Linked DNA regions of Homo sapiens. The protein of the gene in region 1 interacts with the protein of each later gene in a biochemical or structural test. Each region holds a gene or a part of one and is shown on either strand. Other genes may lie near its edges.

The links. Proteins that work in one complex are often made in the same cells at the same time.
Region 2: the proteins of DCN (region 1) and INSR form a complex in vitro, tested with the Homo sapiens proteins (one study listed by IntAct).
Region 3: the proteins of DCN (region 1) and SFTPD form a complex in vitro, tested with the Homo sapiens proteins (one study listed by BioGRID).

What each region holds. Positions count from the first base shown.
Region 1 is NC_000012.12:91,144,798-91,151,831, forward strand, and holds part of DCN (decorin isoform a preproprotein), read right to left. Parts: intron 6,996-7,034; coding exon 6,857-6,995; intron 1,456-6,856; coding exon 1,261-1,455; 3' UTR 1-1,260. UniProt on the Homo sapiens protein: May affect the rate of fibrils formation.
Region 2 is NC_000019.10:7,111,732-7,116,415, reverse strand, and holds the end of INSR (insulin receptor isoform Long preproprotein), read left to right. Parts: 3' UTR 1-4,151; downstream 4,152-4,684. UniProt on the Homo sapiens protein: Receptor tyrosine kinase which mediates the pleiotropic actions of insulin.
Region 3 is NC_000010.11:79,939,073-79,946,106, forward strand, and holds part of SFTPD (pulmonary surfactant-associated protein D precursor), read right to left. Parts: intron 3,808-7,034; coding exon 3,691-3,807; intron 3,433-3,690; coding exon 3,316-3,432; intron 2,999-3,315; coding exon 2,882-2,998; intron 2,443-2,881; coding exon 2,326-2,442; intron 1,717-2,325; coding exon 1,633-1,716; intron 1-1,632.

The DNA.
Region 1 (7,034 bases):
TTCATGTTCCACTGCACTCATTCTGCTACTATTAGCAGAATTGATTACCTCTCATGTGAGCCACTACTATAACTTGCACATATTTCTATGACAAAATTTAGTCCACCATATTTCAATTATTTGCTATACTTAATAAATTATTTAAATTTACACTGTATTTCAATTATTTTTTCCCATATGAAACTATGATTTATAGGGGTTTTAACCATCAAATATCTAACTTCATAGAAGACAGAAACTATTTTCACATATTTGCTTATTAATTGTTGATAGCACAAATGTACAATTTGATAAATGTTTACTGTAAGTAAATCATCCCCAGGCTTATTAAATTGTCTGCATTGATAGTTGTTTATAAATTCTACAGAAAACATTTCTAACATGGGTGGTTTAACTAAAGAAAATACTTACGTCTAATACATCTAGTAATTGTAGAAATGTTCAGCCTGATTACATGAAGTCACATGATAGTTTTAATATTTATTTAGCAGAGGGGTAAATTGAAACATCAGTTCTCTAGACCAGTCAGGAAATGTATGCTTTGTGCTTTATAAGCTTACATTCAACATAGATGACATAAGTTACCATACTCAAATGTAAGATAGGGAGAGGTAGAAGAAATAGCTGAGAACTTGAAAAGATGTACTGTTATTGTCAACAAACCAATGTCTTCTCCCTTCATAAAATTGTGTTTAGGGAATATTAACAATTAAGCTTGTATACAATAGTAATTTTGAATGTATTTTTAAATTTATTTTTTCAAAATAATGACATTAGTAAAAATTTTACATAGCCTGTATTGAATTCACACATTCAAATGAGGCTTTACCAGTAATGATGGGGATTAATACAGAGCTAGTGTTTGGCATTTGACTTTATCTCAAATGAGCTAACTGCTCAATGAATTACAGAAGACTCATACTCTTTTTATTTTTTCCTGGAAATTAAAAAAGAAAAGCTTTACTAAATATTGACATATATATTTACTCCAAATTTTACATTTAGTGAAATAAGAATATCTCTAGTAGCTCAGTTAACATCAACAGAAAGCTTCAAAAGATGATTCTGAAAATGGCAGGCAAAATTTCTTTTTATTGTAGGCAATTACTTAAACTGGAAATTTGGCTTTATGCATAATAAGTCATGTGGGTAAAACATCCACATTGCAGTTAGGTTTCCAGTATCTAGCTTTTATTTATTTTTTAGCAATGACATTAACAAGATTTTGCCAGGTTATAAAAATGAGGGCTTTCTTGAGAATTACTTATAGTTTCCGAGTTGAATGGCAGAGCGCACGTAGACACATCTGAAGGTGGATGGCTGTATCTCCCAGTACTGGACCGGGTTGCTGAAAAGACTCACACCCGAATAAGAAGCCTTTTTGGTGTTGTGTCCAGGTGGGCAGAAGTCACTTGATCCAACTACAGAGATATTGTTGTTATGAAGGTAGACAACCTACAACATGAAACGATAGAAAATAATTATTATTCTCTAAATATGTTGAGGCCCTTCAGGTAAACATTTTATTTTTTTTATTATTTTTTAATCCTTCACTTTTTTTTTTTTTTTTTTTTTTTGAGATGGAATCTTGCTTTGTCACCCAGGCTGGAGTGCAGTGGCATGACCTCAGTGCATTGCAGCCTCTGCCTCACAGGTTGAAGCTATTCTCCTGCCTCAGCCTACTGAGTAGCCGGGACTACAGGCACACACACCATGCCCGGCTAATTTTTGTTTTTAGTAGAGTTGGGTTTTCACCATGTTGGCCAGGCTGGTCTAGAACTTCTGACCTCAAGTGATCCGGCCACCTCAGCCTCCTGAAGTGCTTGGATTACAGGCGTAAGCCACCACGACAGGCCCCACTTTGAATAACTGACTACTTCTCAGATTAAACTTTTGATTTCTCCCTTCCTTTTGAAAATTTGCTTTTCCCTTCTTTAGTCTTGTCTTCCCCATCTCAGTAAATTGCATGCCAATCATTTCAGATGCTCAGGCTATATACATTGTCATTATCCTTGAGCTCCAATTCTCTTATGCTCTCTACATAATCAACAACAAATCTTGCTAGCTCAGCCTTCAAAATGTACACTTAATCTAGTTCTCTCCACCTCTACTCCGACAACCTTGTCCAAGTCACCATTGTTTCCTTCCAAATGATTGAAGTTGCCCTGATTATTATTCCTGCTTCCCCTTTTGCCTTCCTAAATTTTATTCTTTTTTTAAGCTCTCAGAGCAATTGCTTTAGAAAGTAAACCAAATTATATGTTCTTTGCCTCAGAACTCCAGTGGTTTCCAATCTCATGCAGAATAATAAAATCTAAAGTTCTCAAAGGGGCCTACAAATCCTACATGATCTGACATCCTTCTACTCTGACCTCCTTTTCTCTTACTGTAAAAGCCAGTCATCTGGTCTACTTGCTGCTCTTCTAATGCACAAAGCATGATCTCTTCTTAAGTTATCAACACCGTTTACTCAACCTGGAATAATCTCTAAGGTGTCTTCAAGGCTTGTTGCCTCATGTAAGTCGTTTTTTCTTACCAGAGAGACCTTCCCTGACCATCCCATTCTGCCATTCTCTGGGGCAGAATTACGTTACATGTTTTTCTTCATAGCATTATCAATATGTAGCATATTATGCTTATTTGATATTGTTTGTTTCTCTCCTCTAGAGTAAAAGCTCCATGAGACAAGAATGGTTCTGCTTGTTTATGGCTGTATCTCCAGTACTAGAACAGACCAGGTGTTCAATAAATATGTGTTGAATGAATAAATGTTATTTCATATATCAGGTCTACATGACTATATTGGGTCTACATGAAATATTATGTTTTCAGGACAAAAAATATATACACCTTTTAACAAAATGATATAGAATGAGAAAGTGCTGTGTAGTGAAAAAGAAAAAGAGAGCATAAAGTACTGGAATTGAAATAAAGAATCACAAACTCCAAGAAATTCTTAAATATTTAAACATCACAGCATTTAGAATAGACCTAGGAAGTTTTAACAAATACATATTTTACGTAATACGTTTTACTTGAATACAGTGCAATATAATTAATCAGAGTTTTTTTTCTGAATTATGTTTTACAATCATGTTTAAGATAATGGTAATTTGGCCATAGATTTTCTTAGGGTCCCTAAAAACCGGAATTATACAAAGAATGTTAGAAATGAGTTTACAGTTCACTTTGAGGATATGAGTTCTGTAGGTCAAGAAGCAACTTCTCTGAAATCATACAAGCAAGGTTAGAATATAACACTAAGACAACAAGGTCTTTTTTTTTTTTTTTTCTGAGACGGAGTCTCGCGCTGTTATCCAGGCTGAAGTGCGGTGTCGCAATCTCGGCTCACTGCAAGCTCCGCCTCCCGGGTTCACGCCATTCTCCTGCCTCAGCCTCCCGAGTAGCTGGGACTACAGGCGCCCACCACCACGCCCGGCTAATTTTTTGTATTTTTAGTAGAGAGGGGGTTTCACCATGTTAGCCAGGATGGTCTCGATCTCCTGACATCGTGATCCGCCCACCTCAGCCTCCCAAAGTGCTGGGATTACTGGCATGAGCCACTGCGTCCTGCCACCAACAAGATCTTAAGTGAGCTATAAAACCTATGAAGTACTCCCTTAAAACATAACTTGAAAGCCTGGGCGTGGTGGCTTATGTCTGTAATCTCAGCACTTTGGGAGGCCGAGGCGGATGGATCATGAGGTCAGGTGTTCAAGACCAGCCTCACCAACATGATGAAACCCCGTTTCTACTAAAAATACAAAAATTAGCATGGCATGGCGGCACGTGCCTGTAATCCCAGCTACTCGGGAGGCTGAGGCAGGAGAATTTCTTGAACCCGAGAGGCGGAGGTTGCAGTGAGCCGAGATTGTGCCATTGTATGCAGTCCAGCCTAGGTGACAGAGCGAGACGCTCCGACTCAAAAAAAAAAAAAAAAAAAAAAAAAAAATTTGAAATATTGTTCTACCCACTAGGACATTCACATTCATGTGCTGGTGAAAACGGCTTTGTTTTTGTAAGGGCTGAAAAGCGAATTAGTAGATGTCATATAAAAACAGAAACAAGGAATATTAAAGTGAAAGCAACACTTATATGTATGGTTTATGGTTCTCATATTTTGGAAGTTTCTTGTTGTCATTTACCATCCTCTATATTCCAGTAGTGATTAGCAAGTAAAGGAAGGGGTGTTTGGTGAGCAATTTATGGTTAATATTGAAAGTGAGAGAACAAAATATCAAGACGTAAGTATTAGTCTGTGTAGAACAAAATAAAAGTAGATTCCAAACTCATTCTATGGGGTCAATATTTTCTAAGACCAAAGCCAGACAAAATTCATCATAAGAAAAAAAAATGTAATCAAATACCTCTTATGAATATGGACAAAAAATCTTTCACAAAATGTTAGGAAGCTACATTTCACAACATATAAAATGATTTCATGCTATAGGACCAAACATGATTTATCTCAGGGTTGTAAAATTGGTTTAACTTATGAAAATCAATCAAAGTAATATCAATGTAATACACTATATCAAAAATATAAAGGCCAAAACTCGCATGATTATCTCAATAGAAGCAGGAAAAACATGTAAGAAAAAAATTCATAATAAATGTTTTCAGTAAATCAGAAATAGAAGGGAACTTCCTCAACTTGATAAAGAGCATCTATAGAAGACCTGTGGCTAACATCGTAACTAATGGTAAAATGAATGCTCCCTCCTCCTAAACTAGCAAATAAGGCAAAGATGTCTAATTTCATCACCTTTGTTCAACATTGCACTGGCGATTCCAGCCAATGCAAAGGGTGGGTTGTGGGGGAGGGGGAGACCTAAAAGAATCCAAATAAAATAACTAAAGCTGTCTATTTTTAAATAATATATCCTGAATATAGAATATCCAAAGGAACTCACAAAAATTACTGCAACTAAAAACAAATTTGGCATAGTACCAGGATAGCTCAATATATAAACATCAATTGTATGTTTATACATTAGCAGCAAACAAATAAAAAAATTAACAATTCAAAACAGCATCAAAAAGAATGAAAAACAATGAATGTAGTAAAAGAATTGCAAGGCATGTATGCTAAAAATGACAAAAACTGTTGAGAAAAAGAAAAGAAGATATAAATAACCCTTGTTTGTGACTTGGAAGGCTCAATATTATTAAGATAGTAATTCTTCCCAATGATCTGTAGATTCAAAACAATACCTTTCAAAGCCTTACAAGAATATTTTTCCAGAAATGAAAAAGTAGATCCTAAAATTGATATGGAATGCAAAGGAACCAGAATAGCCAAAATAACTTTGAAAAAAAAGAACAAAGTTGGAGAACCTACATTTTCTAATTTCAAAACGTAATCAAAAGCTACAGTAATTGAAGGGTATAATACTGTCATATGACTAGACATATAGATAAATGTAATAGAATTGAAAGTCCAGAAATAAACCCTTACATTTATGATCGAGTGATTTTCAACAGTGACAAGACAATTCATTGGAGAAAGAATATTATTTCCAACAAATGACATTGGGACAATTGCTATCACATACAGAAAATGAATTAGACTCATATCATATACTAGGATTATCTCAAAATTAGATTATAAAACCAAATACAGGAGTTAAAATTATAAAATTTCTAGATGTTAAAGTATTCCTGGAATCTACACAAAACTATGGTCTATGAAACAAACAAAAATGATAAAATAGATTAATGATTCCCTGTGGCTGGAGATGAGATATTATCTCATGCCAGTCAGTATGGTGATTATTAAAAAGTCAGGAAACAGTAGATGCTGATGAGGCTGTGGAGAAATAGGAGTGCTTTTACATTGTTGGTGAGAGCATAAATTAGTTCAACCATTGTGAAAGACAGTGTAGCAATTCCTCAAGGATGTAGAACCAGAAATACCATTTGACCCAGCAATCCCATTACTGGGTATATACCCAAAGAAATATAAATCATTCTACTATAAAGACATATGCACACATAATGTTTATTGCAGCACTATTTTACAATAGCAAAAACATGGAACCAATCCAAATGCACATCAATGATAGACTGGATAAAGGAAATGTGGTACATATACACCGTGGAATACTATGCAGCCATAAAAAGGAATGGGATCATGTCCTTTACAAGGACATGGATGAAACTAGAAGCCATCATCCTCAGCAAACTAACACAGGAACAGAAAACCAAATACTGCATGTTCTCACGCATAAATGGAAGTTGAATGCTGAGAACACACGGACACAGAGAGGGTAACAAAACACACAACAGGGGGTAGGGGGTGAGCGGGCGAACTTAGAGGATGGGTCAGTAGGGCCAGCAAACCACCATGGCACACGTATACCTATATAACAAACCTGCACATTCTGCAAACGTATCTCATTTTTTTTTTAGAGGAAATAAAGAAAAATGATGAGGCCATGTCAAAAAGAATCAGGAGCTAGACCAAAGAAGCTCTTTCCAGTCAATTCTTGAATAATTTGAAAATTAAAATTAGTGACAGTAAAAAAAAAGAATTTTTATTTTACTTGTGGCTTCAAACTCCCCCTACTCACTATGGCACCAACATCACCACCCCTACTGAAAAAAATATCAGCATTACAGAAGACTTTAAGTTTCATCTCCATACTTCTAAATCAAAAACTTTATTGAAATCTAGCTAATGTAAATTGTGCTTCATGATTTAATTTTTTTTATGGTATTTTGTCATAGAAATTCTAACTAAGACACTCTGGAAAAAAAACTTCTAAGAAGAGCTTCCTGCTTCCCAGCATCCCATAAGCAGGGTGGGGGTCTTGCTTTTTGGATATTCCTCACATAAGCAGTGGCTTTGCATTACCTGGATGTACTTATGCTCTGCCAGCCCACCAGGTACTCTGGTAAGCTTGTTGTTGTCCAAGTGAAGCTCCCTCAGATGAGGCGTGTTGGCCAGAGAGCCATTGTCAACAGCAGAGATGCTGTTGAAACTCAATCCCAACCTGCAACAGAAAGCAGAAATGAAAGCAAACACCACACAT
Region 2 (4,684 bases), on another chromosome or scaffold:
GTGTGTGTCCATTAGACACGGCTGATGTGTGTGCAAAGTATCCATGCGGAGTTGATGCTTTGGGAATTGGCTCATGAAGGTTCTTCTCAAGGGTGCGAGCTCATCCCCCTCTCTCCTTCCTTCTTATTGACTGGGAGACTGTGCTCTCGACAGATTCTTCTTGTGTCAGAAGTCTAGCCTCAGGTTTCTACCCTCCCTTCACATTGGTGGCCAAGGGAGGAGCATTTCATTTGGAGTGATTATGAATCTTTTCAAGACCAAACCAAGCTAGGACATTAAAAAAAAAAAAAGAAAAAGAAAGAAAAAACAAAATGGAAAAAGGAAAAAAAAAAAGAACTGAGATGACAGAGTTTTGAGAATATATTTGTACCATATTTAATTTTTAAAGTCTCTGGTATTAGCCTCATAAGTTATTGACTATTCCCCGGGGTTGGCGGGGAGTGGGGACATGAGTTGGTCTGCCTGTTGTGGGGCCGGGAAGGGGAGGGAGTCAGGCACAAGTGGCCTCTTTGTTTGGTCTTAAAGGCATCCATTTCTGGGAATGAAGCCATGTTCGCTGCTAACACTTTTGGATGTTGTGAGGCCACGTGGAGTGTGTGAGAGACTAGGTTTTATGGATGGTCTGGTTCAGGTACCAGGTCTGCTGGAAGGTTCCTGTTCGGATAAGCTGGTAGCTACCTAGCTCTGAGCCTGCCTTCAAGAACACCTGTGTTCATCCTCTGATTCTCTGTGTGTACCTCTTGTGGCGTTTCCTCTCCCGGGTGTGAACATCCTAACCGTTATTGTGCAAACCCAAGAACGTCAGATCCCAAAGCACAACAACCTGGATGGACTTTGGGAACATCTAAGCAATGTAAGAGAGAGGTGCACTGAGAGTACGTCTTGGTCCCCTCCACCCTGAGAGCATCTGACGGTCCTCAGTACTGAACTCCCGGAAGCTGCTCTGAGCCCGGTGACCTCATCTGGGCCAGGTGTGGTGCCTGAGCTGAATGCTCAGGTGCTTACAGTGTTGCAATCCCTAAGAGAGTAGAGTCTGGAGGAGAAACCGTGAAAAAGACCTTACACACCACCAAGAACTTCCGAATGGGCGTGAATCCACCGTTTCTTCTCTTTGCAAAAAGAACCACCACAGCTGCTCAAAGAACACAGTGAACTCATCACTTTGGTTCATCAAAAAATCATCGCCCATGCGTTATTCCTGAGTGCATTTTCTTACAACTTTTTGACTGCTTCCTTTTCTTCTTCTCTTAAGAGTTGTGGGCTTAAGAATGGGATAGAGTCATAATGGCAACCTCCAAGCCCTCTCAATTCTTGATTAAGAACACAGGTAGACATGAATCCCAATTGTCTATTGCTATCTTATTTATATGATTCGGGAAAATACAGCATGTAAAAATATTGCTGAGGAGCCTCAGTGATTGGGTACAAGAAGCAAGAGTACAGAAATTATTTTTGCCAAATTTATTTTGTAAATATGAGGGTCTGTACCTAAATTTAAAAAAAAAACACGTAGAACTAGGTATTTTGTTCTCTTCTTAGTAAATTTGTAGTGGTTGTATACTACACTAGCTGCAATTTTCACATTTTTCTAATTCAGAAAGGTTTTTCTTATATTAGGGGAAAAAGTATTTATTTTAATATATAAAATCACTCTGAAAATCACTCTCATAAAAAATGGAGCGCATGTAAATTTTTATCAAAGAAAAATAAACAGGTGAATGGGGGATAGTGATTTTCTTTTTTCAGCACAGTCTACCTCAGTGTATTGTTAAGATGTGATTCAATCATGGACATCTTTGAGATTTCAGAATTCTACCTGGAACCGGTCTGAATCAGGGAACGTGTGTATCAGCTGATTCGAATGCCAGGGACCAGTAAGAATTTTGAGGGAGGGAGTTGGGATGGAGAAGGTATGGCCTTTATGCGAGCATAGATCCTTTTCTTCCTGGCTGGTAATATTCTTCTCTGAATTTAATCTTCCTTTAAAAAAAAATCCTCCATCTATTGTCACTATGTTCCCCAAACATAAACTAAGTTCCAGGCTGTCATGATGTATCTGATATATGGGGTAACCCAGCAAGGTGTACCTTCCTTTGGTGAGAGATGGCTGCCGGGGCAAAGACGGGCTTTGATTCAGAGCAAGCATTCCCACCTGTTCCATGGAATCCCCCTGAAGTGAGCACAAAGGTGCCCTGGGCTCCCTGATGGTTTATGCCCACTCCTTTCAGGCTGGTGATGCACCTTACACACAAACACCTAATGCAATGTCTTTTTAAATTCTCCAAGTGGGATGGGAGCATGTGAGGGAAATTCCAATCCAAAACCCATTAATGTGCTGAACGCTTTTTTTTTTTTTTTTTTTTTTTTTGCAACAACACCTTGGACCTCTGTGTTGGGGTTTGACTGACCTCAAGCTGATATTATTGGACCTTGTGCAGCTTTGATAACCCATGTGAGAGTCTAGGCAGGACCAGTGGGGCCCAAATCTTGCTGCTCTTGTACTTTTAGGCACTGCCCTTGCAGACTCACCTTTCTCCACCTGCCCTGGAGAAAGGTAGGGTGTGCTGGGCCTGCCCCTTGCAAATGGGATTCACCAGTTTCATTTATTTGACTCTACTGCCACAGTGAAAAGAGCAAACAGCTATTGGGTTGCAAACCTCCTTTGACATTAGGAAATGTTGACTTTGTAACAATAAAACTTTGGTCCTAGAAAGACACGGTTGTCCTGGGAGTTTGTAGTGTTAAGTTGCAACAACAACAACAAAAAGCAACAAAACCAGCTTAGGATAACACTTTTTGTTGCTTGTTCTTAAAGATGTCTCACTATGATTAAAACCCTTTTCATTAATGTAGTGAAAGCCACACAGGAGTTCCTTCTTCCAGGAGGAGAATACCAAGCACATCACTTTCTCTCTGCATCAGTGATGTCAAATACGCATCAGAAAATGTTCAGGTTTTAGGAGCTGTCCTAGGTGCTGTTTCATCATTGGAAGCAGTGAGAAAGAGAAGCACTGCTGCTTGTCTGGATATAGGCTGAGGATGATTGAGAGAAGCTGTGGGAACTGACACAAGGGTCTGCATAGGTCATCCTGTGACCCTGGGGACTATGTTACCAACTGACAGACAGATCTTTCACTGTATCCTAGCAGGGCAGGTAGTCCACCAAGAAATGTGCTTATTGGATTGGGAGGTGTTTATTTGTAGTCTGCTGTAACACGTGTGAAAGAGCAGGAGCGTCATCAGCATATGACTTGCGCTGGTCATCCGGTAAATGGATGTGCTGTAGTCCCAGTGCTAATCATTTCTCTCCTTCACAGTGGGTGGAAGTTTAGGGTTAAATGTCCTTTGAATGTCACCTGGTGAGTCCTTGACACCTTAGGCTCTTCAGAAACAATGGTTTTGTTGAGGATGGGGAACAGGGAATGCCGATTTTATATACATGGTACACAGAGAGGGGTGTCACTTCAGAAAATCTTCCAGCATGTTCTTCAGAATATTAATTTATATGCGAGGTGAGGTTGGGAATGAAAAGAACAGGTCAGCACTTTTTTTTTTCCTAGAACATACAAAAGAACATGGTGGACTTTCAGGGAGTGCAATGGAAGGTGAATATTTCCTTAAGGGTCCCCGAGAAATGGGAGTGAGGGGAGGGGACACAATGGCTTTTTGAGCTTACTTTTACCTTCTGATACTAGTCAAGGTCCAGAACCAGCCACCAGCCAAATTTCTATCTGGGTGCGGGCCACTGAAAATCCTTGTTAAAAACCAGATCACAAATCTGGGGCTCTTGGTCCCATTGGAGAAGGAAGGAAGAGCCTCAAAATAAGTGTGCACCCATGCACATATTCAGGAACAGCTTGTTTAGTCTTTACACTTTGCCTGAAAGTTGCTTCTCCTCGTCCCTTTGTGTGCCTGGGTGGCCTCGGCCCTGTGCGTTGGCAACGCAGGATCAAATGTGCTGCAGCTTTTGCAGAAAACAACTCAGAAACACAAAACCCCCCAACAGCTCAATTATTATTTTTTCAATGTTTTCCTACAAGAGCCAAGTAGCACCATGTACAGAAGACGCCTTTTTTTTTGGAATATTGAAATCGTTCTGCATGTAAAATATGGGATAATGACCTGTTTATATTAAAATTCTGATTAAATTATCTGAGAATACGCTTGTTTTTGTGTGGTGTCCCGGTAAGGACCTGTCGTGTGGTCGGGGGATGTGGCTATGAGTTGGGCTGTGTTAAGGAAAACCTCTTGGAATATGTAGGTGCCTTTTTTTAGAGGAGAAAAACACCTAGATTCTTCCACACATGAAAAGGGAGGTTAAATAGTTGCTACCAGCAGAGTTGATGACTCGTAGGGACATACTTGTATGGCCAAACTGGTGGTTTAAATATTGCACTATTTCCATACCATTTGGTAAGTAAGCGCTTCCCCAAGGGCTCCCAGACCTCCCCATGGTCCAACCACTAAAGGGTTCACTCCGAGAATACCAATGAACCTTCAAGATCTTGCTCTATTCTGACATGCGGGAAACTCATATGTTAAGTATTTTCAATGTCATCCTGGGAGTGGAGACCTGTCCCAGGTTGGGTGGACAGGTGAGTGACCATGGGTTAGACCATGGGATTGAAAGCCTTTTGAATAGTCTTTCTTGAGTGGCTTAAAACAGCAACTGTTTATTTATTTT
Region 3 (7,034 bases), on another chromosome or scaffold:
GCTCACTTCACAAAAGCTGTTGCGTGGGCAAGGGAAAGTCACTTCCCTTTTCAGGGTTTCCATTTCCTCATCTCTAAAATGAGGGCTCACTTCACAAAAGCATTGCCTGTGTGACATGTCAAGTATCTCTTTTTAGTCTGTCTTTGTGGCTCTTGGGCCCATGCATGGAAATCTTCCGCAAAGGACACTGGAAGCTCCAGAGAAGGCTGTGCCCCTGGCTTTGTTGGGCTGCTCAGAATGCAGGCTGCACCCTGACTCATCGTCCTTAAGATTCTCCATGGGCTCAGGGTGGCACCCAGAGCAGCCCTGAACAAAGTCAGCATAAGAGTTCATGTACCATTACTAAGTTTATGTGCCATGCACATATGTGGGCATGCCTTTGAATATATGTGCATCTACCCAAAGGTACGTGGGAGTATGTAAGGTTCATCTGGATGTGTGTGCATATTTGTGTGTGCTATATAGACAACATATGAGCTCATGTATGTAGATGGAGGTGGAGTGAGTGATGGTGTTTAAGTGCACACACATGCAGTGGGTGCATATGGACATGTTCCTCTGTGTGTTTCTGTCACTGTGCCTCTGAGTGAATTAGAGCATATGCAGAAAGAGATATATACCAAATGCTTGAAACTCTCATTTCAGAGCTTGGGTACTTAGAAGCCAAACCTGTGTTGCACCCAGTCAGCCCTTTTATGCTCTACTACTTCAGAAAACTTTAATCTTTTATTTTTTGGCTCAATGAGATGCGCCTGAACTCAAAGCTGATATCAGGAAAGGCGGAGGAGAGTAGGGGCAGTTGGGCACTGATGTGGAGATTCAAAAAGGCACCAGGCCCTCAGCTGTGTGTCCCTGGAGGCCTCTGACTCTTCAGGATTCCAGGGTTAGGGCAAAGTCTGCTTTAAAATACCTCCAGAGCTGCAGGTAGAGCCCAGCAGTGGCTGGAGCCCAGAAGCAGCCTGCCCCCTATTTGAACCAAGAGCACGTCTAAGGTGAGATATCTGATGGCCACATACCAAGGTCAGGCCCCCACCTGCCTTGTACCCCCAGAGCAGAACCCCAGTCCTAGTTCCCAGAACAGTATCTGGTTTCTGGGCTGCCTTGGGATGTGCAGCAGCATCACTGGGGACTCCCATACCTGGCCCCTCTGAGCTAAGAAATGCAGCCCGTGTTGGGTAGCCCCTTATCTATCAGAGGGACCAGCACAAAGTAGGCAGGAGAGAGGCTCTACTGAATTGCACTGGACTCAGGACAACAATTTATCTCAGGGCACAGGTGGCATTGAGGTTGGTGGGTAGTTCAGGAGCCTGATGGCCTTAACTATGCTACTGCCAGCCTGGTGAGCTGGTGATAGGGGCCACATCCTCCTCCTTTGCCCCCTTGGATCTACTTTGAGCTCCAGGAGCAGGTGGCTGCCCTCTTCTAGCCCCATCCCAGCCTGAGCCCTACCCCCTGCCACAGTCCCAGGTCCAGCCCTACACAGGTCCCAGCTCATTCCCATCCTAGACCCAGGGCAGGCTCTGCCTCAGGTCCAGCCAAAGGTCTAGCCCCAGCCAAAGGCCAAACCAAGGTCAAGATCTAGTGTGGGGCCCAATGCCAGTGCTGGGTCCAGGTTCAGATCCAGGAACTCACCTTTCTTATACTGAGAGAAAGCAGCCTGGAGGTGCTGTACTTGTCCCTGTAAGGCCTCAACCTGCTGCCTCAGAGAAGCAACATCTGGAGGGGAGAAAATGGCCAAGTAAAGACTTGTCCAGAGAGCGAAGGAAGAGCTCAGAGTCTGGGCCCCAAAGGAAGGGTGTCTAGTTTCGGGCACATATTGTGGGGCTGACCCACAGCAAGCCCACATCTACTGACACAGCTGGCCTCTGCTGTGTAAGGATGTCTTATGGTTCTGCTATGAACAAATTGCTGCCTGTACTTCACTGACACTGAACCAGATGACATTGTGACTTTAAAGTCTTGGAATATAATGGCATCTCCATTGGGTGGGTGGGGGGGTTGCTGGGCAGGAATACACACTCATGTGTTTCCTATCCACTGGGTTTTTAATGCCCAAAACTGTCCTATGAATTGGGAAGGCAGTTGTAGTTTTCCCGATAGTCAGATGGAGAAGCTGCCCAGGTTGCTTTCCCATGAGTACTAAGTGGCTAAGACCAGAGCCCCATGCTCCTGCCTTCCAGCCTGTCCGCCTTTCCTGAGTTCCACCCACCAGCTGCCATTAATGGGGCACACATCCCAGAGCCCCTCCTCTGGGATGAGGAGGGCTTCCTCTCTGCCCACCCATGCCCCAGCGGGGCTTCCCTGGGCCAGGAGCTGCTACCTTACCTGGAAGCCCACTTTCTCCCTTTGCTCCTTTGTCTCCAGGAATGCCTTTGTCCCCCTTCAATCCCGGGGGTCCCCTGGCACCTGGACTTCCCTGGGGACCCATGGCTCCAGCAGACCCTGGGGTAAAAGAAGAACTGGGTGAGCTATGTACTCATTTTATTTTTTTTGTTTTTAGCATTTTTACCTTCCCATACATGGACTAACTATCCTTATTGCCCAGAAATAGACAGATGGTCCCCAGTACCCAGCCATGCAGCTCCCTGTACACTGACTGTCCCTGTCACCCAGCAATCAACCCCGCTGTGGAAAACTGCCCCGCCACCCAACAACTAACCTTCCCTGTATACAGACTTCTCCATTGCTTGCGCCTCACTCTCCCTAGATAGGAACAGTCCCCAGAGCCCCCTCATGCACCCTTCTTGGATACAGATTCTCTCCATGTTCCAGCGATACCACCTCTGCCTTTGTGGGTGGTGGAGGGGGTGTAGGCATTGACAGCTCCAAGCAGGCACAGGAGAACTGGACCCAGCCCAGCCCAGCTCTTTCCACTGCTCACCTGCTGCCCCTGTGTTTCCAGGGACTCCACGCTCACCAGGGACACCTCGCTCTCCCTTAGGGCCTGCGAGGCCTCTTGCCCCTGCCGAGCCCTGCATGCCTGGGGCACCTACTTCTCCTGAAGAAGGAACACACAGGAACAAACACAGCTAAGAGCGCGTTCAGCAGGTGTGGTTTTGTTAGCAATGGAGCTTTTTGCCCGCAACTTTAGGGTCAGAGAGAGAAGTGGGGAGACTCTCCTTGCTTTCTGGGGCTCCTCTGTGGAGGGTGAGAGGAAAATATTGCAGTTGTGGGGATTGGGAGGGTGCATGGCAAGCCTTTGCAGCATCAAGGGTCTGGGCTCTCCCTGGCACTCTGAGCACGCCTCAGGTCATATCATGGACCCTTGTCCTTCCTCCTTTCCCTTCTCAGACTGGCCACAGACCAGCCACCTACCTTTGGGCCCAGCTTCTCCTTTTGGGCCTGGCTTGCCCTGAGGTCCTATGTTCCCCTGCTTCCCCAGGGGACCTTCTCTTCCAGCTGGACCAGGCACACCGGGAGGTCCTGGAGGTCCTGAGCAAAAGCACCAGCCCGGTCAGTAACAATGAATCCTCTTGGCAGGAGGAGTGTGTAGTAAGGTGAGGGTAATAACAGAGGTAAGGGAGGCAGCATTGTTGTCCTCCCAACAGCAGGTCCCATCTGTCCTGAAATGACCCAGTGCCACCTTCAGACAACCTTCTTCCTGGGATGGGCTCTGTGCGTGCCCACTGGCATATCCTTGCAGCTGCACCACCACCTGGAAACACCTGAAGTCGACACCCAGTTGCTCACCACTTGGCCCAGTGTCTCCCTTTGGTCCAGGTTCTCCAACAGAGCCATTGTCCCCTTTGGGCCCAACTGGGCCAGCTTGTCCAGGCATCCCTGCTTGCCCTGCAGCTCCTGGCAAACCTGTAGCAGCAGAAGAAATGGACAAAGACCTGGCCCTAGACCCAGAAAGGGCCAGCCTCCTGCAGGATCAGCCCCTAGCATTCCTTTAGGATTCTGCAGAGCATGAGACTTCCACCGTCACACACCCAGGCCCAGTGGTGATCCAGGAAATGGGTATCAACATCCCCATTTTATAGATGAGGAAGAAGCCTTCCAGAGTTGGAGGCGGATTAAAGCCAAGACCTGCCTGACCTTCTATGCGGTGCTCCTTCCCCTACCCCAAGGCCACTGTATTGATGGCAGGCAATTTGTCAGCTCTTACCTGTGATCATGGACTTCTTGCATTCCATATATATATATTAGGGAAGCCAACCAGAAATGGCACCAGACAGGTGGTGCTAACTTGTTCATTCAGTTATTGGTCGATTTGCTCATTTATTTGTTCACTAAGAGCCATCTATGCAGCATCTACTTTATACCTAGCACTAGGCAAGATGCAAATCTGAGCTTAGCCTCAGGTCCTGCTCAGCAGGGGGTTCATAATACACTGTGAGACAAGGGAGAGGAAGGACAATGCATGAAGTGTCCCTCATCTCATCTGAGCGTCCCCACCCCAGCACTCACACACTCAGAGCTTTCTTCTTCAAAGAGAAAGTGGGATTTTAAGAGCAAGGAGAATCGAGGGAGATTTGCAGAGAGGAGGTGACATTTCAGGCTTGGAAGCCATGCTCCCGTGGCAGAGGAGGCCAGGCCTCCATGGGGGGTGAGCATGTGGTTGTGGGTAAATTTGCTGGATGGGTGGAAGAATCTGTGCTGGCGTATCCCAGCAGCACCACCACCTGGAAACATCTGAATTCCATGCCCAGTGGAATTCCGTGCCCTGGGTCCAGCCACTGGTTACAGTCCTTATTAGGGATGAAATGGAAGCACAGAGGGTTATAGGATGGGCCCCACCTCTGACACCCAACAGCACATTTTCCTCAAGGCAGGATGCCCTGACCCCATGTGGAGCCTTGCTTGGGCTTCACCCAGGCCAAGTCAGCAGCAGGAAGATGGACCAAGAGAAAAATGTCACTCTCCAGAAGAGAGTGTTAGAGCCCACTTGTTCTTGGTACACAAACTATGGAGGCCATGAGAGCACCAGGGTGGAGGAGGGGCACCTCCCCAAATGCTGCACCCATGCCTTTCAAAACACTCACTGTGTATCGTAGTGTACCCAGAGACCTAGACCTGCACCCGAGTGCCACCTGAAGTGGAGCTTTATGGCCCAGCCTTTTGCCTGTTTTGACTCCTAAAATTCCTCCACCCCTTCCAGCTTCCATTCACTCACTCCATAAATATCTCTGGAGCCTCTAATACATGCCAGGCACTGTCCTAAATACTGGGGATAAACAGCCCTTCTCTGGGGAGCTTCAACTCTATCTCATAGAAACAGATAATAAAACATTAAAAATGTACAACATATGATATGTTAGATATAATGCCACAGGGAAAAGTAAAGCATAGGGTGTGTTGGGGGTAGGGTCTGTTTTTGGTAGGGTGGTCGGGGAGTGCCTCACTGAGAAGGTGATCCGGGAGTAAAGTCCTGAAGGAGGTGAAGTATGAGCTGCAGGGACAGCTATGAGAAGAGCAAATGGCAAGCCCCTAAAGAGGGAGGAGGCTGAGCGTGACCGGGGGCCAGAAAGAAGCTATGTGGTTGGAGCTGAGTAGGGGTGGCAGCACCAAATTCAGAGGAGCAGCAGGGGTACAGGGGTACAGGGTGGTCCTGCCGGGACTCATGGGCTGCTGTAAGGTGTGTGATTTGTCCAAGGGAGACGAGCATCCCTGGTGGGACTCCCCCACGGAATATTGCTGAGCAGGAATGCTGAAGGTGCTGAGGAATAAGGAATTGTTCCCCACAAAGGCAGGATCTGGGTCATATTTACCCTCCATGATACGTCGGGGATGTCACCAGAGTGACTCAAGCTTCACCCTCCACCCCTGCTCAAAGATCTCTTCTTTCAAGCCCCAATTTTCCTCGTAGCAGATTCTGGGAACCACATGCTTCCAACTCTGCAGGGGTGGTTGTCACAAGCACAGACTTTGGCCCACAGAGACCTATTCTGGGTAGATTCTGAGGATGCTGAGGATTCTGAGGGAACCCAGCCCTCAGACCTGTAACAGTGGAGTGACTGGAGAGACTGCGATTGAGAAGCCAGAGTGGAGCCTCATCCTGTAGCCCCACCGTGTTCTGTCCTGTGTCCAAGTACTGACCCAAAGCCAGGCCTGGAATGTGCATGGGTTGAGGCACATATGTGGGGAAGGGAGGCCTTGACCATGCTTCAGGCAGCAAGCTCCCAGGGCCATTGTGGGAAAGATCCCTGAGATTCAAATCCGGGGCCCCACTGGAGGCCAGACTGAGTTGGGAATCTCTGAGAAAGAGCTGCCAAGATGAACCCCACCCCCATTCTGGGATCCCCCCTGGACAGCCCTCCCCAAGCCCCATCCCATTCACGTTGGGAGCCACTTTCTGTCTGTAAGGGATAGGCAGATGCTTACTTGCCCCTTACCCCACAAAGCCTGGGGATATTGCTTCGTCTTTCCAGAAAGTTAAAGACTGTATCTGATCCCTTTGAAGCCCTGCCCAATGTCATAGAGGTCCCTCAGTTCATGCTGCTGGCTGATGGAATTCTCCTTTCTTGCCAGTAAGACCTAGATCTTTCCCTACAAGCGGGGAGCAGTATTTCCAGGGACAATTCCCTTACTCATCAGTACCTCTGCTAAGCTCAAGATAATTCACCTATTAGGTACAGCAGAAAATGCAACTTTATCCCAAAGACTCAAGAAAAAATAAAGCCTTTGGCTCAATGATTCATCACTGGGTGGTAGATATCATTCCCATTACCAGATAAAAAAAACAGACTCAGTGACACTGAGGGGCTCTCCCAGTGTGGAGATGGAGCCCAGGCCAGTCTGATGCAGAGCCTTCGTCCTTTCCACCTCCAGAATGGTTGCTACTTAGCCTCTCTGCATCATCATTTTCTTACCTGTCGAAGGAGATTAATATGTCCCCTGTAAGACTCTTGGGAGGATTAAATGAACTACTCCAGTGAATGCCCAAGCACAAGGGTGGACAAAGAAATGTGAGTGCCTTTTCTCCCCGTGTAATGTATTAGAGCAAATCCTCTTGATTAGGCTTGAGAATGGAGCCATGGAGCCCCATTTTTTTCCCACCCTTCATGCAGTAGTGTTTAATTAAATATTTAAAA